Homo sapiens: one gene and its partners. The protein of the gene in region 1 purifies or fractionates together with the protein of each later gene. This does not show direct contact. Each region holds a gene or a part of one and is shown in the gene's direction. Other genes may lie near its edges.

Region 1 (4,468 bases):
TTGCATAAGGAAGGTACCTGGGCATCTAATGTAAACCACCCCTGTGCTCACTACTTGAGCTCAGAGGCACCTGATCTCAGACTCTTAGACCAAATATAATTTAAATGGACTTCCAAAAACTTAGTTATAATTCTCAGCCTCTGTAGAACATTGACAGCCAACTGTCCTACTGTCTCCTCAGGACCTCTTAGATTTTTTGGGCCAGGGTTCACGCAGATATTGCAGAGAAGAGTTGATCACAATCCCAGGGTGGAAGAGTCTTGGGCTTCCTTCGGTTCCCCTACAGGTAGTCTGTAATGCATGCTTCCAGACCATCATGAAAATTATTGACAAAATAAGAAATGTGAGACTAAGCATGAGGAGACTATTGGTGTAATCAAAGGATCCTATCTTTGTACCAAGAGCCATGGTATTTGAGTTTACCCTTTTCTTGCTACCATAACTGACTTGATGTTCTGTGAATCAGGAACTACCTTTAGCTCCCTCCTATTAAAGGAAATATGTGTAGCTGTCTTCTGTCACTACTGGTTACTTGAGGGACACTAGTAACATGGAATAGTCTTGGTAAGCTCTGCTGCTTAGCATGTGATTAACTTCCAGTTAGCCTTGTATTGCTGCATGTCAAATCTTTCAAATTCTTCTAGGTAGTATCTTTGACTGTCTTAATATACAATGCCTTTTAAAACCCAAACACATTTTTACTTCTGATCTTAAAGGTTTATTAATACTTGGGCTTGTGCTTAATATCAGCTTGCAGTTCATTCATTTAATAAATAGTGTTTATTTTTCTTACCAAGGAATTTAAGAGGCAACGCACTGAATATTACTCATTAGGATATAAATGGAAAAATAAGACTAGTAAAAGTACTTTTTCCCCCTTTTTATTTAACTGAGGTGAACCAAAATTAGTTCTGTCAGGAAGTATTCCTTGGAAAGATTCACTTACCAGAACTTGACCCATTCTCATTGTATTTTTTTTTTTTTTAACGGAGTCTCGTTCTGTTGTCCAGGCTGGAGTGCAGTGGCACAATCTTGGCTCACTGCAGTCTCCACCTCCCAGGTTCAAGCGATTCTCCTGCCTCAGCCTCCTGAGTAGCTGGGATTACAGGCATGCACCACCATACCTGGCTAATTTTTGTAATTTTATTTTTTAGTAGAGATGGGGTTTCACCATGTTGGCCAGGCTGGTCCCAAACTCCTGACCTCAAGTCATCTGCCCTCCTCTGCCTCCCAAAGTGCTGGGATTACAGGCGTGGGCCACCGTCTGTACTTCCTATTACTTTTTTATTCATTGCTTGTTTTTTGCCCCCCAAGATGGAGTCTTGCACTGTCGTCCAGGCTGGAATGCAGTGATGCAATCTTGGCTCACTGCAGCCTCCACCTCCCGGATTCAAGGGATTCTCCTGTCTCAGCCTCCCAAGTAGCTAGGATTATAGGCATTAAGCCACGACGCCTGGCTAATTTTTGTATGTTTACAAATAATTATTTGTAAAGGGGTCTCACCGTGTTGGCCAGGCTGGTCTTGAACTCCTGACTTCAAGATCCACCTGCCTCGGCCTCCCAAAGTGCTAGGGTTATAGGTGTGAGCCACCACGCCTGGCCAATTCATTGCTCTTTAAAATTGGTGATTTTAGCACTTACGAATCTATGGGGGTTTTTTCTTATTTTTTTTTCTACCATTAACATGCATCGCCAGAGATTCTGATTTTTATTATAATCACTTTTACTATTCTTTCTTATAAAAATATTAGAAACTTTTCTTCAATGTCATTCACAGCTTATCTCCAGACCTGAGAGCTGAGTAACTGTTTAGGTTTTGCTATAAATGTTGCTAAGACCCATCATTTCTATTTTCTCACCTGTAAACAGGCTGGGTTACATCATATTCTGTCTGCTTTCTGCTAGTCCAAAGGGATTACACAGAAACTTTAATCCACTGTGACCAAGTTAATATAATTTTACTTTTTTCAGTTCTTTTCCTTTCTTCTCCCTCATCTCCCTCAAAAAAGACTTCTCCAGAAGTGTCTTTAGTAACTCTCTTCTCTTAGACCCTATCTCAAATACTGCTTTCTTAGACAAAGTTTAATGTAATTTATAACAGAACAAAACCTTTTAAACAAAATTTAAGTAGAAAACAAAATTCACAATGTAGTAGTAGAAAACAAAATTCACAATGTAGTATAAATGTTATAACTTAGTTACAACTTTTATATATATACAAATGTATATAAAAACTATATATACACACATGCACATTATATGTTTTACATTCCCTATACAGTCAGCCCTCTGTATCAGCAAGTTCCACATCCTCAAGGTTAATGCAGTATTTTCAACCAACCACCTATCGCAATATTTGGAAAAGAAAATTAAATACAAATGTAAAAATACAGTATAACAATTTATATAGCATTTACATTATGTTAGGTGTTATAAATAATCTAGAGATGACTTAAAATATATGGGAAGATATGTGGAGGTTATCTGCAAATACTACGCCATTTTATATAAAGGACTTGAGCATCCTCAGATTTTGATATCCTCTGGGGTCCTAGAACCAATCCCCCATGGATACCAAGGGATGACTGTACACTTAAAAAGAAAAGGATTGAATCTCTCTGCTCTCCCGGGGTAGGGCTTCTCAGTAAATTAAATTGTTATCAATGCCTGGACAGCTTTGGTTTTGTACTTAAAAAGAAATATGATTTATTTTGCATAATCAGGTAATAGGGCTATTTACGTAAGTAACTGAAACTTATTTTTAGGTATCGAAACCTTTCATTTTAACCACTTATAATGGTTGTTCTTATTTGATTTCAACATGTTATTAATGATTGTGTTATTATGATAGATATGATGTATTATGTTAGGTATAGAGTTACTCTCACGAGTATTCTTATGTAAAGTTGTTTGTCCCTATATAAATTCCCCTAAACACCTTTCTTGTATTTACTTTTTTAGTTTTATCTTTTTTTTTTTTTTCATTTTTTCCCCTGCAGTTTCTTTCATATGATATAAATAAGGGACAATAACTGCTTCTTTCTTACTGTAGGCAGCCTCTAAAATGCTATGTGATGAGTAAATATACTATCTAGGCTTGTTCGAATTGGATGTGAAATAGATTTAGCTCTTAGAGAGATTAAATAGGTTTCCTGATGTAAAATATATACTCTGTGACACCTGTTATGAAGTCCCATGGCTCTAACTTCGGAATTAGAGAATCAGTTTTTGAGGACTACTGACCTTTTGAGAAATGAGTATTGCAAATAATGAAAAATGTTTAGTGACTTTATTATTCTTAATTTAAAAACATTAAGAAAAATGGCATGCATTTTCTTAGGGTTTAGTGGGTTAATTTTTTTTTAATTAAATGCTTTAGAACATCTTAACAGTTATTTGCTCCTTTAAACTCAACCAGTTACTAGAAGAGTCCACATCTTGTTGAATTATTAGTAACTCTAATAGCTTTCAAAGTATTGTTCAGGACAGAAGGCAGATTTGTTTCAGACATGATGATTTTATGGTATGAAAATCATTGGTTTCAGCCAGGCGTGGTGGCTCACGCCTGTAATCCCAGCACTTTGGGAGGCCGAGGTGGGTGGATCACTTGAAGTCAGGAGTTCGAGACCATCCTGGCCAACATGGTGAAACCCCATCTTTACTAAAAATACAAAAAAATTAGCTGGGTGTGGTGGCAGGCACCTGTAATCCCAGCTACTCGGGAGGCTGAGCCACAAGAATCACTTGAACCCAGGAGGCAGAGGTTACAGTGAGCTGAGATTCTGCCACTGCACTCCAGCCTGGGTGACAGAGTGAGACTGTCTCAAAAAAAAAAAAAAAAAAAAAAGAAGGAAATCAATGGTTTCAAACCTGATAGACATCAGAATCTCACAAGTAGCTTTTTAGAAACTTTTTTTTTTTTTTTTTTTGAGCTGGAGGCTCCCTCTGGAGTCACTGTGTTGGCCAGGCTTTTTCAGGCTGGGTGCTGTGGCTCATGCCTGTAATCCCAGCACTTTGGGAGGCCGAGGCAGGTATATCACAAGAGGTCAGGAGTTCAAGACTAGCCTAGCCAACATGGTGAAACCCCATCTCTACTAAAAATACAAAAGTTAGCCAGACGTGGTGACCCACACCTGTAATCCCAGCTACTCGGGTGGCAGACGCACAAGAATCACTTGAACCCAGGAGACTGAGGTTGCAGTGAGCCGAGATCACACCACTACACTCCAGCCTGGGAGACAGAGCAAGACCCTATCTAAAAAAAAAAAAAAAGACTTCCTAGGGTCTTGGGGGTTCTGATTTGTAATTTTTTGGGATAGGACCCAGAGCATATATATTTTAAAATTGCGCAAGTAAATATAATACCAGCCAGAGATGAGAATGGCTGGCAAACATTATGTACATACTCCTTTATGTGTATGGGCATGGTGGGGGCTCCTATAGATCACACATTGTCTTCCTTCCAGTG
Region 2 (3,545 bases), on another chromosome or scaffold:
GGCCCTCCTGACAACTGAGAACTGACATTCTCTGTGTTCCCCAAGCAGAAACTCAGGACATAAAGCATGATTGGAGAGTTACACATTTATCAACATGAAATGATGCATAAGGCACATTAAATTAAACTAAGCAGTAAGTTAAACATCCTGGTCTTTTCTGAAAGAGAAAACAAAATCATGGGAAAACAGGTTAGTCCTAGACAGTCTGAAACTTTGGTCTCTAGGTCCATAGGGTGAGTGGCTTCTGTGCCCTCCACCGGGTGACCCAGAATGGGGGAGATGATGTCTCGGAATGTGCTGACTGGTGGGGACGTGCTGACCGGAGCAGGTGCCAGCCCCAGTTCTTTGCAGGTTTCTGGAGTGACAAATGGAACCATTTGCTAACTTTCAAAGAGGCACCCTTTGCTTCCTCTGTAGTCTGAGACCTTTGTCCGTATTATCAGCATCTTGGGTGACTTAATCTGGCTGAAGCAATTGGAAGGGGAAAAGCTACCCCAGGCCATCAGCAAGCCAGCATGACAAACAGGGAGTGGCTTTCTTCAGGAGGTTGCTCTGTCCCTGTCTAGAGGCAATGCCTCCTATGCCCAGCTTGTAAGAGGAAGTGGGAAAGTTTTCAGTTGAAGCTGAAGAGGGTGGGAAGAAGAGAGGAATGGGGAGGCTCTACAGAGTCACAGTTCTTTCTGAACTGAATGTTCACAGGCAGCCTCATTGTATAATTTCTGATGTGGCATGGATTCTGAATAACAGACTCTCCAAGATGGATTTAAATACACAAATGGGTTGCAAAGTAGGAAGTGAATTTGCTTTTCAGTGACCTTGGATCAACCACGCAACTGTTCATTTTTTATCAGAGCAAAAATTGAGAGGGATTGACATGCAAGGTTGTGCATAAATGGAAGGGGGTCTGTCGTCATTGTGTGACCTGGCAGCATAGAAGAAAGTGGGGTGTGTAAGCCCTGGTGGCTGCTTAGAGAGGCTAAACTGCACATTTGCGGGTGGAAGTGGTAAAACAACATGCATACAGAACCTAAGTGTTCCACCACAACTTGTTTTTTCTCTCTCCCTTACAGGATGTCTGGAGACCTCAGCAGCAATGTGACTGTGTGTAAGTAATGGGGTGTGGTCCTGTTCCATGGGGTGTTGTGTCAGGTGGAGGCAGGGAGAGGCAGTCATAATCTCTGTGGTAACACCACCTCTCTCTGCAGCTGTGACAAGCAGCACCATTTCATCAAATGTGGCATCCAAGGCTGCCTTTGGAGGTTCTGGAGGTAGAGGGTCCAGTTCCGGAGGAGGATACAGCTCTGGAAGCAGCAGTTATGGCTCTGGAGGCCGACAGTCTGGCTCCAGAGGCGGTAGTGGAGGAGGAGGTTCTATCTCTGGAGGAGGATATGGCTCTGGCGGTGGTTCTGGAGGAAGATACGGATCTGGTGGTGGCTCTAAGGGAGGGTCCATCTCTGGAGGAGGATATGGCTCTGGAGGTGGAAAACACAGCTCTGGAGGTGGCTCTAGAGGAGGCTCCAGCTCTGGAGGAGGATATGGCTCTGGAGGTGGGGGTTCTAGCTCTGTAAAGGGTAGCTCAGGTGAAGCTTTTGGTTCCAGCGTGACCTTCTCTTTTAGATAAAGATGAGCCCCCACCACCACCGACTCTCCCAACCCAGACTCTCCCACTCCAGAATGTAGAAGCCTGTCTCTGTACCTCTAACTGGCAGCAAGTTAAATTTTTGTCATTTATCTCTGATGGCACTTTGAGGGAAAAGAATGTCCACATACAGTTTTTGAAAGATCTTCTCTCCAAACCAGTTAGTTAGAGCCAGTGACGCCTCTGTGTTCTGGGGCGGAATCTGTGCTGTCTAGGTTTGTGCTTCTAGCCATGCCCATTCCCGCCCCCACCATGCCTCTTTGCATTGCCCATTTTCCAGATGTGTATTCTGTTGAGGACCCAGGCCCATCCAGGGATTTCATCTCTAAGCCTGGCAGTGCTGGGGGGAAATGTGTTTCTGTGTATATAGCTCCTCTTGTCCACTCTGCTTTCGGAAGTGCTGTGGTCTGGGGGTCTTCATAATAAACCTCATTTGCAATTCATATCATGTGCTGTCTGCGTGATGTCAAACCTTGGTGGAAGTGGGCAGCCATGGACAAGGGAGGTTTGGGCATTAAGGAGGGGCTCCTGGGTGAGGAGCGTGCCTCCCTGAGGGAAGCCCAGGCGCCAGCCTCTGGATGAATGGGAGCCTGGGGATGGGTGTGTGGTTCTCAGAAAGTATTTACCAGACTTGAGGGCCATGGCATTGCCGGGAGGTGGACAGGTAGATTTGTGGAAGAGTCTCTTTTCTAGAAAAACCCATTCTTCCTGAGCATTTCCCACAGACTGCCCTCTCCCTTTTCCACAAAGGCTTTGGCCCGGGATCACTTCTCCTCAGGGCAAAACCGCTGAGCCCCTGGCACCATCGTGGTGAGTTTCCAAGCTCCGAGCTTCCAAGGCAGACCTTCCTCAGCCTGATGTAGGTCCTGGCCTCTGTCTCTGCGGGGGCTCTGAGCAAGCCTGGAGGAGGATACCTGGGAAGAGTCTGGAGGACTCTAAAGTGGCCTCCAAAACAGCCACTTCTATTTTCACAGGACACCCCTCCTGTCAGCGGAGTCCCACCACACTCAGCAAACAAGCCCTTCTCTCCTCTCTCACCGCAGCCCCCGGGGCCTGTCGCATGGATGTTGCCATCAGGTTGGCCTTCTCCTGTGGGTGTGAAGATGCCTTCAGCCCCTTCCTCAGGAAGGCCATGTCACCTGAGCAGGGCTTCCAGGGAGTTCAGGAATGGTTGGGCAGGTGGGATTGGGCATGCTTGGGGTTGGTGTTAGACAGGCCAGAGTTGCCCAAATGGGAGTTGGTGGCTCAGGCTAGGTCAGCTTAGCTTTCTGTATGTGGCGTTTGGTTATAGTAGCTGTGGCTTAAAGCCACTCAGAACCACTCCTGGAGGGTCCTTTTTTCTCCCACTCCACCCCAGCTTTAAAACCTTGGAGAGTCCTTAGTTGAGTCTGTGACCGTCTTCCTGTTCCCAGAGGTTGCAGGGACGGCTCTAATAGAGAACAGATGCATTCACTTGCCTCCAGACCAGCCAGGACCCAGGTATGAGGGTGCTGCAGGAACAGCTCTGAAGGCTGCAGGTGGCAAGGTGGCAAGACTCCAGGCTGAGCATTCTAAAGTGATCCGCTGATCAGAGAAGGTCCCTGAGAACCACCCAGGCCTCAGTCGTGGGGAGAGGTCTGTGGGGAGAGGGTGCAGGTTGGGAAGAAGTGGTGTGAGGAGCTGGCTGTTTTCGGGTATGTACATAGTGTAGACATGAACACAACCTTTAACAGGGACTTGGTCCCAGACATTTGAGGCTGGACAGGAGCTTTGGTAATCAGTGTATTTGAACTTTTCACTTAGGTGAGGAAAAAGGTAAGGCCCAGGGTGGACACAGAAACCAGGTCTCCCACTCCCAATTTATTCATTTTTTAAAAGGCTTTGGGAATAGCAATCCATTCTAATAACTTTCTGAGGGGAAAAGAGG
Region 3 (4,468 bases), on another chromosome or scaffold:
TCCCACACCCCCCCCATACCTTTTTTGAAGTCCTAACCCCCAGTGTGATGGTATTTGGAGACAGGGCCTTTGGAAGGTAATTACAGTTAGAAGAAGTCGGGAGGGTTGGGCCCAGGTCTGATTGGATTAGTGCCCTTATATGAAAAGACACCAGGACGGGCGCAGTGGCTCACACCTGTAATCCCAGCACTTTGGGAGGCCAAGGTGGGTGGATCACGAGGTCAGGAGTTTGAGACCAGCCTGGCCAATGTAGTGAAACACCATCTCTACTAAAAATACAAAAATTAGCTGGGTGTGGTAGCGGGCTCCTGTCATCCAAGCTACTCGGGAGGGTGAGGCATGAGAATCACTTGAACCCGGGAGTTGGAGGTTGCAGTGAGCCCAGATTGTGCCACTGTACTCCAGCCTGGGTGACAGAGTGAGACTCTGTCTCAAAAAAGAAAAAAAAAAAAAAAGAGACACCAGAGAGCTTGTTAGAAGAGGTCATGTGAGCACACAGTTAGAAGACCTTCAAGCCAAAGAAGAGGCCTGAGATTGAAACCTACCTTGCAGGTACCTTAATTTTGGACTTCCCAGCCTCCAAAACTGTGAGAAATAAGTTTCTGTTAAGTCACTCAGTCTGTGGTATTTTGTTATGGCAGCCTGAGCAGGTAGTTGTTCTTTCAGAAGGTGTTGATAATAACCACATGCAACACCAAGTCACAAATAATAAAACAGATGTAACTTATATTCATACAGAAAGTTGGGCACTGCCATTGCCTTGTTGGTTTACACGGCTGTGCTAGTTCAGTAGCAGAAAGGTGCTGGTCTCCTTTACTCAGTTTACAATCTAGGCAGTAGAATGTAATCACTGCTTTAAACTTGATACTGCTTAGGGAGAGAATCATTGGTGCTGGGTAACTTTGGGTTCTAGGTTTACTTTTTGTGTATATATAACTGTTTTTGGTAAATCACAAGTTTCTGGGCTTGTCGAATTAGATTTTGTTACAGATTATGAGCTTTATTATGCTATACAGTTAGTTGTATGTATATATGCCTTTCCCACTAGATTTTAAGCTTTTTTTTTTTTTTTTTTTTTGTGACGGAGTCTTGCTCTTGTCGCCCAGGCTGAAGTGGAGTGCAGTGGCACAATCTCGGCTCACTGCAGCCTCCACCTCCTAGGTTCAAGCGATTCTCCTGCCTCGGCCTCCCAAGTAACTGGGACTACAGGCACGTGCCACCACACCCGGCTAATTTTTGTATTTTTTGTAGAGACAGGGTTTCGCCATGTTGGCTAGGCTGGTCTTGAACTTCTGGCCTCAGGTGATCCACCCGCCTCAGCCTCCCAAAGTGCTGGGATTTACAGGCATGAGCCACCACGCCCAGCTATAAGCTCTTTAAGGGTTGTAAATTTATAATCATTCTTTTACTCTCCTGCAAATTCTGTTGCACACTGCCTTAATCAAGGTAGATGCTGAATGCATTTTTGTATAATTGAATATGTTGCAATCCCCAACTCTCTCCAACTGTTCCTGTCAAAGCAGCCACTGGATTGTTAACTAATCCATATTAGATGGGGTTAATTAATATCAGATGGGACAAGTAAGGGCTAATAAGATTATAGGCCACCAAGTAGATTTCTGTCTAGCTCTTATAGAGATTGAGTTTATTGGACCTGTTTGATAGGAAGTTTTGGTGTTTGGGATGATTAAAACTGAAGTTCCTATTTATTGAATTATACCTATTTATATTATTTCATATCAGTGGTCCACATGCAAGTGAGGCTTCTGAGACAGAGTTTGAGTTCTCTCTTCAACTACCATAACACTTAACCTGTATCTTTTTTTTTTTTTTTTTTTTTAGACGGAGTCTCGCTCTGTCACTCAGGCTGGAGTGTAGTGGTATGATCTCGGCTCACTGTAACCTCTGCCTCCTGGATTCAAGCAGTTCTCCATGTCTCAGCCTCCCTAGTAGCTGGGATTACAGGCCTGTGCCACCATGCCTGGCTAATTTTTTTTTTGTATTTTTAGTAGAGACGGGGTTTTACCACGTTGGCCAGGCTGGTCTCGAACTCTTGACCTCGAGCGATCAACTTGCCTTGGCCTCCCAAAGTGCTGGGATTACAGGCATGAGCCACAGCGCCCAGCCGTCTTTTTTTTTAAATAGCAATTTAACACTGTTCACAGTTACTCATGTACATGTCATGCCATCTATTACACTGTAAGTTCTGTGAGGGTAGCTGTATCAAATTTATCTAACTCTCTCTAGTATGCATGACATAGTAAGTATTCAATAAATATTTGCATATTAGTGATAAGGATACAGGTTCTGAATAGTGGGTCCTTACCATTTAAGAATTAGTATTTGATGGCCGGGCGGGGTGGCTCACGCCTGTAATCCCAGCACTTTGGGAGGCTGAGGCGGGCGGATCATGAGATCAGGAGATCGAGACCATCCTGGCTAACATGGTGAAATCCCGTCTTTACAAAAAAAATACAAAAGAATTAACCAAGTGTGGTGGTGGGTGCCTGTAGTCCCAGCTACTGCTTTGTGAGGCTGAGGCAGGCAGATCACCTGAGGTGGGAAATTCAAGACCAGCCTGACCAACATGGAGAAACCCCATCTCTACTAAAAATACAAAATTAGCCGGGCGTGGTGGCGCATGTCTGTAATCCCAGCTACTCGGGAGGCTGAGGCAGGAGAATGGCGTGAACCCGGGAGGCGGAGCTTGCAGTGAGCCAGGATCGCGCCACTGCACTCCAGCCTGGGCGACAGAGCGAGACTCCGTCTCAAAAAAAAAAAAAAAAAAAAAATTAGTATTTGATATTTGATCATTAAATATGAATTAAGAGGACTTAGACTTTTTGTTAAATGTCAAGCTGGGAAAAGTTGTCATTTAAATGAATTGCCTCTTATTTAATTTCGTCTGATGATACATTTTGTTTTTATTTTGTAAAAAATTATTTTTTTTCTTTTTGGAGACAGGGTCTTGCTCTGTTGCCCAGGCTGGTCACAAACTCCTGACCTCAAGCAATCCTCCTGCCTTAGCCTCCCAAAATGCTGGGATTACAGGCGTGAGCCACCTCGCCCGGCCTTGTATTATGATACATTTTGAACAACTACAAGTAGACTTGGTATAATGAACCTGCACGTACCCATTGCCAAGTTCTGACAACTGTCTGTCTATAGCCAATTATGCATTTCTTAAATTAGAACCCCCCCAATATACCCAAATATATATATATGTGTGCATATATATAGTAAGTTGTAACAAAGTTGTGAATTCATACCTGAAGTATCTCAAGTGATGCAAGTTTTATGAATTTTTGTTTATGCCTTTTGGGAAGAGTTGTATTGACAAATTTTTTATGCTTAAAGTAAACCATAAATCAAAAAAATAAAATCTAGGATGCAATAAAACAAAACAACTTCTTGACATAAGTATGGTATGTAAATCTGTTTTGATTGGAAATCAATTTGTTATATTGCCAGAATTCCTGTTTTAGAATACATCTCTGCTGATCTGTCTGTATTCTTAGACTGCATATCTGGGATGAACTCTGGGCAGAATTCACATGGGCTTCCTTTGAAATAAACAAGACTTTTCAAATTCTTAGTCGATCTGCAGAACCTGTAGCCAGGCACTGAACCATTTTGATAGATGCAGTAATCGTTGCAAGTGTATATTTCAAGGAGTTCTGGCTGGGTCCTAGTTTATGCTTGTGGCAGAAGCAGTGAGTAACTGGGAGGAAGTTGGTGAGTAAGCTTCAAGGAAGAAGTCATTTTTAGTACTCTGGATCTTCCTGATTTTAAAGCACTACAAAATGGTGCATTTTCATTCTTGTCAAGTGATAACAGATATATTCTGATGAGCCTGAAATGAATATATATTGTATCATTTTTATAATATCTAGCAAGGTTTGTATTTTCCTAGAACTTGAACTAAATTTCAGTTCATAAAATTTATAAAATACTTAGTTGTTGTAAAATATTTTTGGAATGTTCACATAGGTGACACACAAATGTCCCATTTTCATTCTTTCTATAGTAAATATGTTCTGATATGTGAAGGTTTAGCAGATGCATCAGCATTTAATCCTAGAGGATCTGGCATAATCTTTTCCCCCAAGAATAGAAATTTTTTCTGCTTATGAAAGTAGTACATGTTTCTTTAAAAACAAATCAATATTGACTTCTGCCTGCTGTATAGCACTATGCCTCCACCTGGCCATGACCAGGGGCATGTCCTGGTCCACCTACCTGAAAATGTTTGCAACCAGCCTCCTGGCCATGTGCACAGGGGCTGAAGTTGTCCCACAGGTATTACGGGCCAACCTGACAATACATGAAGTTCCACCAAAGTCTGAGAACTCAGAACTGAGCTTTGGGGACTGAAAGACAGCACAAACCTCAAATTTCTCAGCACTGGAAACCTCAAAATATAACTGAATTCCATAAATAAGATTTTAAGTCTTAAATATGTATTTTT
Region 4 (4,468 bases), on another chromosome or scaffold:
TTGTCTCCATTTTATGTGAGCAGATCTGCCACTTGTCTGTCTCCACGGTCACCACCCCAGTCTGGTCTCTCTCCTTGCAGGTCTCCCTGGATCTCTTGCTCCGCAGATCCACACAGCAGCCAATGGGGTCTTTTCAAAAGACAAATCTGGTCTCTGAATGCTGGCCCCTGAAAACTGTAGGTTCCCCACTTCACTGGGACTGAAGTCCCAACTCATCTTATGCCTCTATTTGAGTCACCCTGGTGCACTCTTGGTTCCTCTAGCAGGGATATACTAGGTTCTTTCCTGTTTCCAGGTTTTTTTCAGCACCTACTGTGTGCCAGGTACTGTATTAGGTGCTTGAGAGGAGCCTTCCAGGCCGAGAACTGCTTGGGTTAAAGCCCTGAGGTGGAAATGAGTGGAGCTTGCCTGAAGTCAGTCAGGAAGCCTGTGTGTTGAACAGCTAGTGAGTGGGGAAAGTGGAGAGATGGAGGAGGGGCAGGCAGTCATGCAGATAGGGCCCGAAGATTGAGGGAAGCCATTGGAGGGTTTGCTTGTTTAGTTTTGTTTACTTTAGTAGAATGATGGAGGTGATGTAACTTAAATTTTTAAGAGCCTCCCTCTTCTGGCTGCTGTGGGGAGAATGGCATGTTAGAGCATGGGACCAGTGAAGAGAGTGTGGCAGTGTCCAACTGAGAAGTGGCAGTGTATTTATTTCTTTATTGTTTTTTTTGGAGACAGAGTCTCCCTCTCACCCAGGTTGGAGTGCAGTGGTGCTATTTTAGCTCACTGCCACCTCCGCCTCCCAGGTTCAAGCAATTCTCCTGCCTCAGCCTCCTGAGTAGGTGGGATTATAAGTGCCCACCACCACGCCCAACTAATTTTTGTATTTTTAGTAGAGATGGGATTTCACCATGTTGGCCAGGCTGCTCTCGAACTTCTGACCTCGGGTGATCCGCCCACCTTGGCCTCCCAAAGTGCTGGGATTACAGGCTGTGAGCCACCGCGCCCAGCCTGAGAAGTGACAGTTTAGATGAAGGTGGTGAGATGCAGTTGGATTGCTTATATATTTCACTTGTTGAGCCAAAAACGTGCTGATTGAGGTGAAAGAGGAAAAGAGGAATCAAATCTTAAGTTTTTGGGCAGAGTAGCTGGTTGAATGGTGGTTTCATTTCCTAAAATGGGAAGATTGGGAGAGTAACCGGTAGTGGGGGCAAAGGAGCCATGAGGACTCCAACATGACACATAATAGATCCAACTGGACATCCAAGTGGAGGTGCTGTGGAGGCAGTTGGATCACATCGAGTCTCAAGTTCAGGGGAGTAGTTTGGGCTGGATATAAATACGTGGGAGTCATCCCCGTAGAGAAGGTATGTAAAGCCATAAGACTGGATGAGCTTAATTGGTAAACATAAGAGAACTGGGAGATGATGGAGCCCTGAGGGCCCCCAAACCCTAAAGTCTGTTAGCTAAAGAGGAACCAGGAAGGTAGGTGGAAAAGCACAGGACAGTCACAGAAGCCAAGTAAAGAAAGGGTTTCAGGAAGGAGGGCAAGTCATTCATGCAATCTGTGCTGCTGGTAGAAACATGGTCTTAGGTAATTTTGCATCAGGTATGGAGATCAGGCTGGTCTTTGGACGGAAGAGCAGTTTTAGTGGAGTATGGAAGTCCTTAAGGAGGAGAGGGGATATGGAATCAGGCCCCATGGAGCAGGGATAGTGTAGTGACCAGCCCCATAGGGTCGGTGGGTCTCTCCCTGTGTGCGGCGACGAGAGAGTGTAGAAATAAAGATACAAGACAAAGAGACAAGAGAAAAGGCAGCTGGGCCCGGGGGACCACTACCATCAATGCGCGGAGACCGGTAGTGGCCCCGAATGTTGGGCTGCGCTGTTATTTATTGCATATAAGGCAGAAGGGGCAGGGTAAAGAATGTGAGTCACCTCCAAGGATAGGTAAGGTCATGTGGGTCACGTGTCCACTGGACAGGGGGCCCTTCCCTGCCTGGCAGCCGAGGCAGGGAGGGAGAGGAGACAGAGAGAAAGACAGCTTACGCAATTATTTCTGCATATCAGGGACTATTAGTATTTTTACTAATTTACTACTGCTATCTAGAAGGCATAGCCAGGTGTACAGGATGGAACATGAAGGCAGACTAGGAGTGTGACCACTGAAGCACAGCATCACAGGGAGATGGTTAGGCCTCTGGATAACTGTGGGCGAGCCTGGCTGATGTCAGGCCCTCTACAAGAGGTGGAGGAGCAGAGTCTTTTCTAAACTCCCCTGGGGAAAGGGAGACACCCCCCCCCCTCCCGCCGCCGCCACTTCCCAGTCTGCTAAGTAGCGGGTGTTGTTCCTTGACACCTTTTGCTACCGCTGGACCACGATCCGCCTGGTAACGGGCGTCTTCCCAGACGCTGGCGTCACCGCTAGACCAAGGAGCCCTCTGGTGGCCCTGTCCGGGCATAACAGAAGGCTCGCACTCTTGTCTTCTGGTCACACCTCACTATGTCCCCTCAGCTCCTATCTCTGTATGGCCTGGTTTTTCCTAGGCTATGATTATAGAGCAAGGATTATCATAATATTGGAATAAAAAGTAATTGCTACAAACTAATGATTAATGATATTCATATATAATCATATATAAGATCTATATCTAGTATAACTATTCTTGTTTTATATTTTATTATACTGGAACAGCTCGTGTCCTCTGTCTCTTGCCTCGGTGCCTGGGTGGCTTGCCGCCCACAGGACAGCTCATCTATTTTATTTTATTTTTTTGAGACCGAGTCTCACTCTGTCACCCAGGCTGGAGTGCAGTGGCATGATCTCAGCTCATTGCAGCCTCTGCCTCCCAGGTTCAAGTGATTCTCCTGCCTCAGCCTCCTGAGTAGCTGGGATTACAGGCACCCACCACCACACCCGGCTAATTTTTGTATTTTTAGTAGAGACGGGGTTTCACCATGTTGGTCAGGCTGGTCTTGAACTCCTGACCTCAAGTGATCTGCCCACCTTGGCCTCCCAAAGTGTTGGGATTACAGGTGTGAGCCACCGCGCCCATTCAACTCATCTGTGGTAACAGGAAAGAGTGCCTGGTCTGAAGCTGTAGATGACTGCTATAGGTGACTAGTGGATTCCATAGGGGAAAAGTGGCCTGGTTCTGAATTCATCTCAGTGAATTGGGAAGTGAGATTGTCATTCAATGGGGAAAGGTGTTGGAGGGTTGAGGAGAGTAGAAAATGGGAGTAAATTTACTAGGAAAATGTCATAGGATTGCTGCAATGTGCTATGTGTCTTTTATGGTCTTAATAAATATGATATCTTGGCCAGGTGTGGTGGCTCACACCTGTAATCCCAGCACTTTGGGAGGCTGAAGCAGGTGGATCACGAGGCCAGGAGTTCAAGATCAGCCTGGCCAACATGGTGAAACCCCGTCTCCTCTAAAAATACAAAAATTAGCTGGGCATGGTGGCGAGTTCCTGTAATCCCAGCTATTGGGGAGGCTGAGGCAGGAGAATTGCTTGAACCGGGACCTGAGAGGTGGAGGTTGCAGTGGGCCGAGATCGCGCCACTGCACCCCAGCCTGGTCTACAGAGCCAGACTATGTCTCTAAAATAATTAATTAATTAATTAATTAAATATGATGTCTTGGTGGGGTTGTGATTGTCCTCCTGCTGGGTTCAGTGGGTCCGGTGCAGTGGAGGGTCGGGTTTAATTGGGCTGAGAGTTTTGCCAAGTGAGTTCTCAAAGGGAAAGGGGGTAGAAGGGACACTAGAAATTGGTAGGATGAATTGAATAGAGGTTCTCACCTGACAGGCCACAGCCTTGTTGGAGCTTGGCCTCTGGAAGGAGAAAACCAGAAAGATGAGGCGTGGCTAGAGTTGGGTGCTTGAAGTCCAGATTTCCAAGGAGAGCTATCACTGGTGATGGCCTACTAGGGTAGGAGGGCTGGGGTGGGTGGCTTGAGTTGAGGCACAGCCGGAGTGGTCTCTCATGCGGGAGGCGTGTTTCATCTCTGAAATTGTTAAAATGCACTGTAGGAAGCTGACTGACAGACAATTTTATTGATTATTAAATTCTTAGATTATTAAATTCTCTACAGAGTCCTTTGCCTCCCACCGCCTACCTCTTTGGGTGTTTGGCAGGATCTCAGCTTCCCTAAAGATAAAAATCACCAGGAGTCTTAGACCTGCTGAATCATATTTTCCAGGGGAGATTTACAAGCATGCCAGAGGAACATCCCTTACCGGGGAAGTCTGCAAACTTTGACCTAGGGACTGACCTAGGGTATGACCTTGGAAGTGGACCAGTGTGGTAGGGGAGAGTATTGAGATAGTGAGTTAGCTCATAATAATATCCTTCTTTCCTGCCTGAGAATTTGAACAAATTCGAGACATTTTAGGTGGCAGATAGCACCTGAAATACTTTTTGTTACTAGTAACCATGAAGCCAGAGGATGTAGATTAGTATTTTAGGTGGCAACACCTGAAAT
Region 5 (4,468 bases), on another chromosome or scaffold:
GCCTGTAATCCCATCTACTAGGGAGGTTGAGGCAGGAGAATTGCTTGAACTCAGGAGGCAGAAGTTGCAGTGAGCTGAGATCATGCCACTGCACTCCAGCCGGGTGACAAAGCAAGACTCCATCTCAAAAAAACAAACGGCCGGCTATGGTGGCTCACGCCTATAATGCCACCACTTTGGGAGGCTGAGGCAGGCGGATCATGAGGTCAGGAGTTCAAGACCAGCCTGGCCAACATGGTGAAATCCCATCTCTACTAAAAATACAAAAATTAGCTGGGTGTGGTGGCACACGCCTGTAGCACCAGCTACTCGGGAGGCTGAGGCAGGAGAATTGCTTGAACCCGGGAGGCAGAGGTTGCAATGAGCCAAGACTGCGCCATTGCACTCCAGCCTGGGCAACAGAGTGAGACTCTGTCTCAAGAACAAACAAAAATCCCCACTAGTCAGTGATCAGAATAATTAATCAGAACAATTAATATTTATTGATTTCACAGTTTTTAGTATTTATGTGCAAGAAATTTTACTCCTTTTTTGTGTGACTTATTCTGGTTTTGTTAGCATGGGGTTATAGTATTAACATTTGACTTGAAAGAAAAGGGGTTATTAGATTTATTCATTTAGCATTTACTGAGTATTTACAGTGTACCCACAGACTCTGCTAGGTCTCTGCTCTCAAGGAGTTAATGGTCTAGGAGAAGACACAAGAGGGGTTCCAAGTGGCTTAACTAGTAACATGATCATTATTTGACACCCTTCCCTTGATGGGGAGGCCCCAAGGCATTTTGATAAATAGTTTTCTTAGCTGTGTTCTTTCAGGCTATCATGGCAGAAGGAAAACAGCATGCTCTATGTGTTGGAGTCATGAAGATGTCTGCAGAAGACATGTAAGTCTTACTTTAGGCCCCCTTAACTTTTGATATATGGGTAACCAACCCAGGAAGCATCAGAATTACAGGTGAAATTTGCTATCATGCATACCACATTACACAAATATCCAAGCACAGAAGCTTCATTTCTGATATTTCCTAACACTTAGGAAGCCAATGAAACCTATTTTGTCTTCAGGATTGTAGTCTTTCTTAAGCACTGAAAAGAACCCATGTGCCAACACAGCTGTTTTATATGTGTGTACGTGGTACTTTAGGAATCTTATTTAGTATCATTTAAATTGGGGGAGGAGGGAAGATGTTTTACTGCTAGCTTCATTTTATTTATTTTTATTTTTATTTTTTTAAGTTTTTTTGAGATGGAGTCTCACTCTGTTGCCCAGGCTGGAGTGCAGTGGCGCGATCCCGCCTCACTGCAACCTCTGCCTCCCAGGTTCAAGCGATTCTTGTGCCTCAGCCTTCCAAGTAGTTGGGATTACAGGTGTGCGCCATAATGTCCAGCTAATTTTTGTATTTTTAGTAGAGATGGGGTTTCACCATGTTGGCCAGGCCAGTCTCGAACTCCTGACCTCAAGTGATCCACCCACCTCGGCCTCCCAAAGTGTTGGGATTACAGGTGTGAGCCACTGCACCTGGTCATTACTGCTAGTTTTAAAAACAGTGATATATCTCACCACCACACAGTATCTTATATCCTGACCTGGTAATACAAGAAATGTAGAATATTTAGAGAACTAGTAAAGATATATTATCAAAACATAGGCAGTATATTTAAAAATTTTAGAACCCATTTGATGACCAAATTAGTGGTATTAATTTTGTTTCAGGGTTAATGTAGCACTTTGATATTCCCCTAGTCTTGTGACATTGTTACTCTGGTTCTATAGACCCACTAGTTAGATCACTAAAATCACTTTTAGATATGAGCTGCCACAGAGTAATGTAGTTTAATATAAACAACAATGTAATTGTGATGTCAATAAGTTCTTTACTTGTGGCTTAATAATTAAAAAATAACAATATACTTTGAATTATATTTATCACGAGTAAGACTATAAAAATGCATAAAAGTATGTTTATGTGTTTTTTTTCCTTCTACAGTGAGAAAGTCAACAAAGGAATTGGCATTGAAAATATCCATTATTTAAATGATGGGCTGTGGCATATGAAGACATATAAATGAGCCTCAGAAGGAATGCACTTGGGCTAAATATGGATATTGTGCTGTATCTGTGTTTGTGTCTGTGTGTGACAGCATGAAGATAATGCCTGTGGTTATGCTGAATAAATTCACCAGATGCTAAAATTCTGTTAGCTTCAGAAATTATTTTAAGTTTTCTTAAACTCAAGTTAAAATTGGGTAGCAAACTTGGACATTAAAAGGTATCTGGTAAGTAAGCAAACTCATACAACTAATGTCCTTTCTTAGGCTAATGATATAAGAGTGAAGAGCAGGACTTGGTCAATGGATTGCCATTTTATGGTAGACCTCTAGAGAAACTGTCTAGTTAAATGGGGCTAGAAACTAGACTAGGAATTTTATTCTATTACTCCAGGGGACCCAGCAGTGCTCATTCTCGTGTGTGTGTGTGTGTGTGTGTGTGTATGTGTGTGTGTGTGTGTGTGTGTGTTTTGTTGATTGTTTTTTTAAAAAAAACTTCAATGGAAAATTCTAAACATATTAAGAAGTCTGGAGAATAGTATAATGGACCTCTCCATATCCATCACCCAGTTTCAGTTTATGGTCAGTCTTATTTCATCTATACCTCAATTATTTCTCCCCACCCCCCAATTATTTTGAAGCAAATCCCAGACATCCTATCATTTCATCCATAACTACTTTATTCTTTTTTTTTTTTTTTTGAAACAGGGTCTTGCTCTGTTGCCCAGGCTGGAGTGCAGTGGTACGATCTTGGCTCACTGTAACCTCCACCTCCCGGGTTCAAGCGATTCTTGTGCCTCAGCCTCCTGAGTAGCTGGGATTACAGGCACGTGCCACCATGCCCGGCTAATTTTGTATTTTTGGTAGAGATGGGGTTTCGCTATGTTGGCCAGACTGGTCTTGAACTCTTGGCCTCAAGTGATCCGTCCCCCTCTGCCTCCCAAAGTGCTGGGATTACAGGCATGAGCCACCGTGCCCAGCTAATTTTTATATATTTTATAGTTGGCCAGGCTGGTCTTGAACTCCTGGCCTCAAGTGATCAGCCTCCCAAAGTGCTGGGATTATAGGCATGAGTCACCATGCCTGGCGTCATAACTACTTTAGTGTGTATCTTTAAAAATTAGAAAAACCCCACAATACCATTATCACACCTAAAAAGTTGAACTGTTTCTTAATATGATCAACTGTCTAGACTGTTAATTCTCTTTAACTGTTGGTTTGCTTGAAATAGGTACCACACAAGGTTCATACATTGCATTTGGTTGTTATTTATTGAAGTCTGTTTAATTTATAAGTTACCTTTTCTTTTCCCCCTTAAATTATTTAAGAAATCTAGTTGTTTTGTCTTTAAAGTTTCCACACATATTCTGGATTTTGTTGATTGTATCACTGTGAAGTCATTAACTTGTTTTTATGCCTCCTGTATATCCTGTAAACAAATAAGATTGATCAGATTCAGGTTCAGTTTTTTTAGTGCCTTCTTTTGAGTAAAGTCATACCAAACAGATGCCCAGAACATCTGGATTTGGGTCCCCACTAGACTCCTTAAATAATGTATATCTTCTATAAGTGGAATATGAGGGACATGGACCTGCTTTAGTAAGAACAGTAATCTGTTTGGGGAGTTAAAAGAGCAGTTGTGGATTTATTTATTGATAAAGACCATTTTTCTTCCTAATAACCTTGCTGTTATTCTAGTGTCTTAGCCATCTTCATTTGGTTGTTTACCAATATATGACATGTGATTTTATTTTTCAGATGGATACAGACATATACAAGATTGTGGTGACCTGTGTTACAGTTAGAAGTTGGTGAGAAAGGTGAGGGTGGATAGCAAAAAGAGAGAGATCATTTGGCTGGCTGTTCCAGCTGGGTCTCCCAGGATGTAACATAGGTGGACATAGATCCAGGGTCTGACCCTCAGCTTGAGAAACCATTTCCCACTGATGAAACTTGAGAGACTTGGAGATTCCCCAGTTAGAATATAAATGTATTAATTCATAGTGATAGGTCTGCCTATGGTAAACAATTAGGAAACAGGAAGTTACTTGGTAAACACAGGTATGAGCAAAGGAAGATTGATAAATTGGGGTAATATTTCAGTTGTGCTGAGGTAAGACTTGGAGAATTTTTCCTGCTTCATCATTAATTAGAATGCTTATCTCTGCCAAAATCTCATCTCTTTCCTAGCCCATAGAGGTGCCCTGATATTTTATTTCCTATATCCTTTTCAAGTTCCATGTAGTTTTCCTTATGTTATGACAGTTTTATTCTGCAGCTTACCATATTATTTATTCCTGGTCCACGAAAGTATAAATAGTCTCATCAGGAACTCATTTGTAAGTCATCTCCCAGGGGGGTTTCTTCAACAGATAGTTTAATTTTTTGCTGACTTACTGGCTTCAAATTCAGATGTCTC
Region 6 (4,468 bases), on another chromosome or scaffold:
TTGAGACAAAACTTTTTGTATACTTCTTTTTTTGTACTAAGTTTGGACTGTAAAGATAAACTTTATTATACAATAGAAACTGAAGAAAAATTATGTTTTTAAGGAGCAGAATTGTAAGGTAGTTTGATTATGGGTTTAGTTCGCTATATGAGAGCATACTGTTAAATGTAGACCATTGAACTCTACAGCAGTGTTTTGAAGACTGCAGGTTGTGACCCATTAGTGGACATTGCACTTAATATTTTGAGGGAGATTAAATTTTCTTTCAGGTATTGTGTACTAGGTGGGGAAGTAATTTTTTTTAAGGATTGTGGTCAAAATGTACAGTATGGATGAGTCAAATCTAAGGTCTTCGAACCTTATGTTAGGGGTTGGAGGTCTTGGTGTGAGGAAGGAAGACTTTAAAATTAAAGACTGTTAAGTCCGTGTGGCTTTTTCTTACTTTGGATTCATTTATCCTGTACTCCATGTAGCTCGCATGGTTAGAGAGATCTGAGGCCTACTCCTATTTGAGAGGATGTTATCCCCCATAGCCAGAAACCAGGGTGGCTTCCAAAAGAAAAGGGTAGCATTCGGTGACTCTGCTTTAGGCCTTGAGGATGAATCTTTTCTTTGTTTTTGTCTTCCTGTGTCCTTTTGCATCATCAGAGATCTGGAGACTAAGCTTTGAGCATGGGCTTGGGGAAGAGGGGCCAAAGAGGCAGCTTGGCTGGCATTAAGTGTTGAAGGCCGTAGACCAGACACACACTAAATCCTTGTGACTTACACTTGGTGCAGTCCAGCTATCCAGATGTAGGGATTACACATTGGGGTTTGAGTTCAAAATCTTAATAATGATTTAGAACATGGGCTTTGATGTTAGATATGGATGCAAATCTTGGCTTTGCTACTCAATAGATACACCAGTCAGAGTAGGTTAGATTGTAATTTTAAAAACTACAGTTAGGCGTTGTTAACAATACGGTACATTGAGAAATCATAGAGTATTTTACCTACACAAACCTAGATGGTAGAGCCTACTATACACCTGGGCTATATCCTATTGCTTCTAGGCTATGAGCTTGTATAGCTTGTTATTGTACTGACTACTGTAAACAATTATGACAAATGGTAAGCGTGTTTCTTTTTTTGTTTTTTTTTTTTTTTTTTGAGACGTAATTTCGCTCTTGCTGCCCATGCTGGAGTGCAATGGTGCAATCTTGGCTCACCGCAACCTCTGTCTGCCTCCTGGGTTCAAGCAGTTCTCCTGTCTCAGCCTCGCGAGTAGCTGGGATTACAGGTGCTTGCCTGCCTCAGCCTCCCAAGTAGCTGGGGTTACAGGCACTCGCCACCACGCCCAGCTAATTTTTGTATTTTTAGTAGAGACGGGGTTTCACCATGTTGGCCAGGCTGGTCTGGAACTCCTGACCTCAAGTGATCCTCCTGCCTCGGCCTCCCAAAGTGCTGGGATTATAGATGTGAGCCATCACGCCCGGCCAAGTGTTTGTGCTTCTAAGCATAGAAAAGATGATGTGCTGTACTATGAACTTGTGACTGCTATGACATCACAGGTGATATGAATTTTTTTAGCTCCATAGTAATCTTATGGGACTACTGTCATAAATGTCCATTGTTGACCAAACGTTGGACATACTGCATGACTATACTGCAAATAAAAAAAGTGGAAATGGAATAAGAAAGATAAACTATAAGCCCCAATTTTTTATTATTAGTTTCAATAGACATAAAATTATTCTGCTATTAAATTTTCCATTTTTGTGCTCTCAATTTGTGTTTCTCTGACATAAACTGATAATTCACAGACTGGCTCATTGGTCCACAGACCACACTTTGCATAGCACTAGGTTAAACTATGCTGCAGCAACAGACTGTCATGCTAAAGTTTATGTACAGTATTATGTTTTAGGCCAGTGTTAACTTTAAAAATACTATACTTTGAAAGCTGAGAATTAAGTATCCCCTGTGATTGGGGGGATAGCCTGAAGCTGCTCCTGCTTACGTTATTTTGAAGTTTTCTAAGTCTTAAGTATTCATGTGTCATTTGCATTTTATTCAATGTTTGTTTGCTTTATGTGAAATATAAAGATGATATTCTTCCTCCTTCCCCACTGATCTGGAAGTAAAAATGGACTTTCCTGAAGTTGTAACATCTTAATTCTGTTGTTTTGTTTAACTCTGGGACACAACTGACTACTTCTGGTAGCTTTATTGGAGGTGAGGCTCCAGGTCAGAGTTTCTCATTTGAGGTTTTGTAATTATTTGAGGGAGGGGAGGGCTGTCTTGAGCATTGTACAGTATTTACCAGCATCCCTGCTGTCATCGTGCTAAGATGCCAGCAGCACATGCTCTCTCTGGTTGTGAAATGAAAAAAATGTCTACAGACATTGCCAAATGTCACGTGGGGGAGCAGAATCATCCTTGGTTGAGAACCACTGCACTAGGTGATGGAGAGCCATTGAAGGATTGTGGGAGACGGGGAAGAAGGAACAAGCTTCCTTAACTGTCTTACTTTTTACTTCTTCCTGGAACTCCTACCACTTAATATTCTTAGTATTTCCTAAACTTGGGAATCAAAATTACCTAGATTTTTTTGTATTAAAAGTTTATCATTAATTGATATATTTTTGCAAAGCATGATCAGTAATTACTGGACATAGAACATTATGCTAGGTCATTATTTTCTAAAGTATGGTTGAAGGGTCAACCATGGCTTGGAGTTAAAAATGCAGATTAACTGGTTCCCACTACAAGACCCATTGATTAGCAATCTCTGGGAGAGGGACCCAGGAGTCTACATTTCCAAATGCTTTCCGACTTATCAAGTAACTTCATTATTGTATGCTTTCATAGAAAAAAATACGTGGATTTTAAGTATTTAGTTCAATGAATTGCTGATGTGCATACACACATCTTGTAGCCTTTATTCTAATCAAGATAGAGAATACTTCCACCATCCCAGAGTTTCTTGTGCCCTGTTGGAGTTCTCCTTCTACTGCCCCAGGTAACCACTGATAAGATTTCTAATAGCCATGAATTAGTTTTTTTGTTTTTGTTAGTTGACTCATTTAAAGTGTTTTTTCTGGGTAACTTTCTAAAGTCTCCCCATCCCTATAACTTCTTTATTATATAAGATTTCAAATAAAATGAACGTCATGGTGTTTTTCAAAGAATACAGATTCTCATAGTGTTTCACACTTTGATAAATGATAGGCCTGGGATGGGGCCCTGAAAATCTTTGGCTCTGATTGACTGTTTTCAGGAAAATCAAAACTATTTTCCACCAGTTTTGCTGTGCTTTATAAAATATATTTGAAATATTCCTGCAGTGGTAATTTGAAACTTTTGTAAACTTTGTTCATTGATTTAACAAGTATTTGACTCCAGGAAGTATCAGACACTTTGACACCATAGCAATCAAGAAAGCTGTGGTCATGGATGTTATGATGTTTCTGTTTTCATTTCTGAAATTGCTTTTTTAAAACTTTTTTTTTTTTTTTGAAACGGAGTTTCGCTCTTGTTGCCCAGGCTGGAGTGCAATGGCACAGTCTCAGCCACCGCAGCCTCCGCCTCCCCGGTTCAAGTGATTCTCCTGCCTCAGCCTCCCGAGTAGCTGGGATTACAGGCATGTGCCACCATGCCCGGCTGAATTTTTTTTTTTTTTTTTTTTTTTTTTTTTAGATGGAGTCTCTCTGTGTCGCCCAGGCTGGAGTGCAGTGGCGCGATCTCGGCTCGCTGTAAGAAGGTCTGCCTCCCGGGTTCACACCATTCTCCTGCCTCAGCCTCCTGAATAGCTGGGACTACAGGCGCCCGCCACCGCGCCCGGCTAATTTTTGTATTTTTAGTAGAGACGGGGTTTCACTGTGTTAGCCAGGATGGTCTCAATCTGCTGACCTCATGATCCGCCCGTCTTGGCCTCCCAAAGTGCTGGGATTACAGGCGTGAGCCACTGTGCCCTGCCAATTTTTGTATTTTTAGTAGAGACAGGGTTTCTCCACATTGGTCAGGCTGGTCTCGAACTCTCGACCTCAGGTGATCCACCTGCCTTGGCCTCCCAAAGTGATGGGATTACAGGTGTGAGCCACCGCACCTGGTTGCTTTTTAAAAATTTTATTGGGAGGTTTTTTGTTGTTGTTTTGTTTTTTTGAGACGGAGTCTTGCTCTGTCACCCAGGCTAGTGGCATGATCGTGGCTCACTGCAACCTCTGCCTCCTGGGTTCAAGTGATTCTCCTTCCTCAGCCTCCTAAGTAGCTGGGATTACAGGCACATGCCACCACGCCTAGCTAATTTTTGTATTTTTAGTAGAGACGGGGTTTCACCATGTTGGTCAGGCTGGTCTCTCCTGACCTCGTGATCTGCCTGCCTTGGCTTCCTAAAGTGCTGGGATTACAGGTGCAAGCCACCGCACCCAGCCTGGTTTTTTTTGTTGTTGTTTTTTTTAATAGGTAATATAATCACTTGGTTCAAAAT
Region 7 (5,252 bases), on another chromosome or scaffold:
TAAGAGACTGATGCTGAATGGTGTCCTACCCTTGATAGGTCTTCTCTTGTAAATCTGAGTTCTGATTAATTTGAAGTGATAGCCTTAAAAGAGGAAGCCCAGGTATGAGGGACCCACCAGCCCACCCCTATTTTTACTTCGTGATGGCCAGAACATCACCATAGTATGAGGCTACTTTCCTTCTTGTGAGAGCCCCACCATCAGTATAACTGGCACTCTTGGCTAGTATTTAGCCTGTATTTCCTTCATTTCTAATTTCTTTTTTTTTCCTGAGACGGAGTCTTGGTCTGTCGCCCAGGCTGGAGTGCAGTGGTGCGATCTCTCACTGCAAGCTCCGCCTCCCGGGTTCACGCCATTCTCCTGCCTCAGCCTCCTGAGTAGCTTGGACTACAGGCGCCCACCAGCACGCCTGGCTAATTTTTTGTATTTTTAGTAGAGATGGGGTTTCACAGTGTTAGCCAGGATGGTCTCGATCTCCTGACCTCGTGATCCGCCCGCCCTGGCCTCCCAAAGTGCTGGGATTGCAGGCGTGAGCCACCGCGCTCGGCCCTTTCATTTCTAATTCTTAATATTGTCTCCTAAACGTGCAGAGACAAGCACACGTTTTAAAGGCTAAGGAGGTTGTAGGTAGCAGAAGGCTTTAAAAAGTAGCACCTTACTCCTTCACTGGATGGTCTGAGCTGCAGGGACAGCTGCTCTTTGGCCTTCAGCTCACCTCAGAAACTAGAAATATTTATTTCAGGCTCTGTCCCATTGGCCACTGTGGTCAGGGGTGGAAAGCACCTGCCAGGTGTTGCCCTGAGATTGTCTGGGCTAACAAACTTTTCCACAAGCTTTGTGGTTGAACAGTAGCCCCCTCCTAACCCTATCGTTCCTTGGCGTCCAAACTACAGTAGGTGTCGAGTGCCCCCTGGGTGCGAAGCTCGGTATTAGGCAAATAAGGGTGGTTGCTCTCCAAGGCGCTTAGCTGTCCCCCCTTCCCACTTTTTTTTTTTTTGTTCGAGACTGCGTCTCGCTCTGTCGCCAGGATGGGGTGCAGTGGCGCGCTCATAGTGGCTCACTGCAGCCTCGATGTCCGGGGCTCTGGTGACCCTCCCACCTCAGCCTCCAGAGTAGCTGGGACCACAGAAGCGCGCCACCACTCTTAATTTTTTGTACTTTATTTGCAGAGATGGGGTTTCATATTGCCCAGACTGGTTTCGAATTCCTGGGCTCAAACGATCCGCCCGCCTCAGCCTCCCAAAGTGATAGAATTGCAGGGGTGACATGCCACTGCGCCCGACCAAGGCGCTTAGCTTTCTATTAAGTTTTCACAACCACTTTCCTACCACTATCTACTGTTCCTATTTTACAAATGACAAAACTAACCGACAAAAGAGCACTGGACCGTGGGACCAGAGCACGTCCCTGTGGGGTAACCTTGAGCTGGTCGCTTGCCCAGGGCGGCAGCGGATGTCTGAAGCGTCTTCCAATCCCAACATTAGACTTAATTCAAGGTCACCAGTGCTCAGCTGCGGCTGGAACTGGGTCTCGAAACTTGAAGGCCTTCTCTGCTACAGCCTTCGTTCCCGGGAGCAGAAAGAGGAAGTTTCTTAGCCGTGGGCACGCCGGCGCCTTCGCAGAGGCCCATGGCTTGAGGTCCGGCCCGAATGCGCAAGTTCCGACCTGAAATGAACTATGGAGTCCGGGAGGGGTCGCTTTGCTCCTCCGGAAGGCTTCCCCTTCAGCCAATCACCGTTCGAGGCCCGCCCCCGTCGCCGGAAGGAGCCGTCGCCCCGAGCAACTACAACGTCCGGCTTTCTGAGTTGGGTGGCGGGAAAGGCGATGAGTAAAGGCCGGGCAGAAGCTGCGGCGGGAGGTAACGGCGCCGTGGGCGCGGGGAAGACCCGGGAGGGCAGTGGGTGAGGAGGTCGGTTGAGTGGCCCCCTCCCCTGCCTTTCTCTCCGTAGCCGCCGGGATCCTCCTGAGGTACCTGCAGGAGCAGAACCGGCCCTACAGCTCCCAGGATGTGTTCGGGAACCTACAGCGGGAACACGGACTGGGCAAGGCGGTGAGGACCTTCTCCCGGGATTCCCTCTCCGTCGGACTCCCTGGATTCAGGCTGGGGTCGTGCCCTTTGGAGCCTTGGGCGTTTTCCACATCACTGGCTGGATTTCCCCAGACCCAGGCTCAGACTCCTCTGATTGCTCCTTCTCTCTCCTCTGCCAGGTGGTGGTGAAGACGCTGGAGCAGCTGGCGCAACAAGGCAAGATCAAAGAGAAGATGTACGGCAAGCAGAAGATCTATTTTGCGGATCAGGTGAGGAGAACTTGCGCCGATTGTCACCCATGAGAGCCCGACAACGGGTGAATCTACTCCTGGTGTGAACTCTTTGGGGACAAGGCCCCCCATGGAAAACTCACCTGTCTTAGGCCACCATCCTTAAATCAAGGTGTGTACTCCTCTTGTTAGGATCCCAACTTCACGAGGTTTCCAGATTTACAATATGATGGATGACAGAAGATTCTGTATTGTTGCTACCAAGATCCATTTCCGCTCCAAAGCTCTTATTCCTTATCATCTACATTAGCAACACCCTCTGCCAAATGATGTTCCTCCTGCCTCCATCCGATTCTCTAAACACACATATCAAATTTATATTCTCCAGCCCAGACCTCCAGCTGGAATCTGTCAGGCATTAATATCAGAGTCAAAATTGCCACAGTAGAATGCCTCATCTTCCCCCCACCCCGGACTGGTTTCTTTCTAACATTCTCCTCCCCTAATGGAATTACTCTTCACCCAAACCAGAAATTGGGAGCAATTCTTGACTTCCTTTACTAGTCAACCATCAAGTCCAGCTGATTTTTCCGTTTTTATTTATTTTTTTAATTTTTATAGAGATGGGTCTTACTGTGCTGCCCAGGTTGGTCCCAACTCCTGGGCTCAAGTGATCCTCCTGTCTTGGCCTCCCAAAGTGCTGGGAGGACAGGCGTGAACCACAGAGCCTGGCTAATTTTTCCATTCTTGAATCCACTCTCCTTTCCATCTGCCATGGTTGCTCTAGTTCACGCCCTCTTTATTTGTTGCAGTATCCTCCTAACAGATCTTGGCTCTTCAAACATATCTTAAACTCTTAAACATTGCAGTCAGAATGATCTGTCTAAATAGATCTGGTCATGCACCTTCCCTATTTAAAACTCTTCAATGGCTCTCTAGTGCTGCAAAAAACATGTAAAAGGCACCGGAAGACGCCCCAGCCAGCCTCTGGCCTCACCAATCCTCATTATTTTTCTATCCACGAACACTAGATAATTCTGGTGTGTTTTACTGCTCTGTCCTTTGCATGTTGTCTTCCCTGTACCTGCTTCTCTTCCTGGCCAGCTCTTTCTTTCCTTGAGGATTTCACTTAGACATCACCTTTTCCAGAAATCTTCCTTGAATGCTCCGAGCTAATTGTTTCTTTTTCAGGCCCTTATCTCTTTTTGTTATTGTTGTTGTTGTTGTTGTTGAGACGGAGTCTCGCTCTGTCACCCAGGCTGGAGTGCAGTGGCACAATCTCGGCTCACTATAAGCTCCACCTCCTGGGTTCACGCCATTCCCCCGCCTCAGCCTCCCAGAGTAGCTGGGACTACAGGCACCCGCCACGAAGCCTAATTTTTTTTTTTTTTTTTTTTTGGTATTTTTAGTAGAGATGGGGTTTCATCGTGTTAGCCAGGATGGTCTTGATCTCCTGACCTCGTGATCCACCCGCCTCGGCCTCCCAAAGTGCTGGGATTACAGGCATGAGCCACTGTGCCCAGCCTGGCCCTTACCTCTTTTGAGGCATGCTGTATTACAATTTTTACTTGTCTCCTTTATTCAACTGAAGTTCCTCTAGGGCAGACCCCATTTCTCAATTCATTTTTATCTGATCAGCACCTCCGCAGTATCTAACATCCAGCAGATATTACTCGTTAAACTGAACCAAACCACTTTTAAGGCTGACTTTCCTAAAACAGGCTGCATTGTGTTACTCATCTAAAGATAATTCTCTAAAGGAGGGTTTGGCAAACTTTTTCTGCAAATGGCCAGACAGTATTTTTAGGATTTGTGGGCCATATGTATCTCTTGTCATGGCTGGCTGTACAACTGCCACAACTACTCACCTCTGCCACTGTAGAACAGAAGCAGCTGTAGACTATGTAAATGAACGGGTGGGGCTGTTTCAATAAAATTTTGTTTTCAAAAACATGCATCTGGCAGGATTTGGCTTGCTGGCCATAGTTTGCTGGCCTCTGCCCTATAGGTTCACCTTGCCCAAGTGTAGAGTCCAGACTGCACTGGCTGGCATACTTTTTCAACCTGCTCCCCATCACCAACTGATGTGACCTCCCCCACCCCCACACTGATCCCCAGTGCAGTTCTTTTCTAGCAATGGCCCCTCATGAGAGAAGCTCCTCAGACTTACTGGAATCCCTTATCTACATGGATCCCAAGACCCAGCATAGTGGCTCATGCATGTAATCCCAGCACTTTGGGAGGCTGAGGCGGATGGATCACTTGAGCCCAGGAGTTTGAGACCAGCCTGGGCAACGTGGTGAAACCCCTTCTCTACTAAAAATACAAAAATTAGCTGCGCTTGGTGGTGCGCGCCTGTAATCCCAGCTACTTAGGAGGCTGAGGCATGAGAATCGCTTGAAGCCAGGAGGCGGAGGTTGCAGTCAGCCAAGATTGCACCACTGCACTCTGGCCTGGGTGACAGAGAAAGAAAGAGAGGAAAAGAGGGAAGGGAGGGAGAAAGAGAGAGAAAGAGAGAGGGAAAGGGAGGGGGAAGGAGGGAGGGAGGGAGGAAAAAGGAAGGAAGGAAGGAGGGAGAGAGGAAGGTGGAAAGAAGGATGGGAAGAAAGGACAGGAAGGAAGAAGAAAAGAAGTCCATCCATCCCATCCATCATGCTTCTTCACCTGTCCAGTTTCTATCTATTATGGAAACCCATGATCTAGGTTTCCCCACCGTGGGAACAATGTTACTTAACTGCTTCAGCCCAGGTAGTGGTTTTATCACTAAATGGGAAGATTTCTGTCCTAATCAGTATCCTGTCAACCTAGTAGCTTAAGGACAAGCATTAGATTTCAGCTTTTCTTTCCTACCTTTTTAGTGGGGCCGCTCCTTAACTGAAAACAATTTCTCAAAAGTACTCTCCCACTATTTCTGCAGACCCTCTGGAGACTTTGGGGTGTGGCTGGTTCCTGAGCATATCCAAATGGTGCCTTCCCAGGTGTGTGTTCCCATC

What was found.
Region 2: the proteins of ASXL2 (region 1) and KRT2 purify together in Homo sapiens (affinity purification with mass spectrometry, with the first as the bait; one study listed by BioGRID). This does not show direct contact.
Region 3: the proteins of ASXL2 (region 1) and HPRT1 purify together in Homo sapiens (affinity purification with mass spectrometry, with the first as the bait; one study listed by BioGRID). This does not show direct contact.
Region 4: the proteins of ASXL2 (region 1) and AHCY purify together in Homo sapiens (affinity purification with mass spectrometry, with the first as the bait; one study listed by BioGRID). This does not show direct contact.
Region 5: the proteins of ASXL2 (region 1) and MCTS1 purify together in Homo sapiens (affinity purification with mass spectrometry, with the first as the bait; one study listed by BioGRID). This does not show direct contact.
Region 6: the proteins of ASXL2 (region 1) and SEPTIN7 purify together in Homo sapiens (affinity purification with mass spectrometry, with the first as the bait; one study listed by BioGRID). This does not show direct contact.
Region 7: the proteins of ASXL2 (region 1) and PSMC3IP purify together in Homo sapiens (affinity purification with mass spectrometry, with the first as the bait; one study listed by BioGRID). This does not show direct contact.

Annotation. Positions count from the first base shown.
Region 1 is NC_000002.12:25,745,021-25,749,488, reverse strand, and holds part of ASXL2 (putative Polycomb group protein ASXL2), read left to right. Parts: intron 1-4,468.
Region 2 is NC_000012.12:52,643,095-52,646,639, reverse strand, and holds the end of KRT2 (keratin, type II cytoskeletal 2 epidermal), read left to right. Parts: intron 1-1,070; coding exon 1,071-1,105; intron 1,106-1,205; coding exon 1,206-1,621; 3' UTR 1,622-2,082; downstream 2,083-3,545.
Region 3 is NC_000023.11:134,465,985-134,470,452, forward strand, and holds part of HPRT1 (hypoxanthine-guanine phosphoribosyltransferase), read left to right. Parts: intron 1-4,468. UniProt on the Homo sapiens protein: Converts guanine to guanosine monophosphate, and hypoxanthine to inosine monophosphate. Transfers the 5-phosphoribosyl group from 5-phosphoribosylpyrophosphate onto the purine.
Region 4 is NC_000020.11:34,296,428-34,300,895, reverse strand, and holds part of AHCY (adenosylhomocysteinase), read left to right. Parts: intron 1-4,468. UniProt on the Homo sapiens protein: Catalyzes the hydrolysis of S-adenosyl-L-homocysteine to form adenosine and homocysteine. Binds copper ions.
Region 5 is NC_000023.11:120,610,195-120,614,662, forward strand, and holds part of MCTS1 (malignant T-cell-amplified sequence 1), read left to right. Parts: intron 1-816; coding exon 817-884; intron 885-1,988; coding exon 1,989-2,070; 3' UTR 2,071-4,468. UniProt on the Homo sapiens protein: Translation regulator forming a complex with DENR to promote translation reinitiation.
Region 6 is NC_000007.14:35,803,705-35,808,172, forward strand, and holds part of SEPTIN7 (septin-7), read left to right. Parts: intron 1-4,468.
Region 7 is NC_000017.11:42,574,259-42,579,510, reverse strand, and holds the start of PSMC3IP (homologous-pairing protein 2 homolog), read left to right. Parts: upstream 1-1,781; 5' UTR 1,782-1,824; coding exon 1,825-1,858; exon of another isoform or gene 1,859-1,949; coding exon 1,950-2,050; intron 2,051-2,208; coding exon 2,209-2,298; exon of another isoform or gene 2,299-2,431; intron 2,432-5,176; exon of another isoform or gene 5,177-5,195; intron 5,196-5,252. UniProt on the Homo sapiens protein: Plays an important role in meiotic recombination. Stimulates DMC1-mediated strand exchange required for pairing homologous chromosomes during meiosis.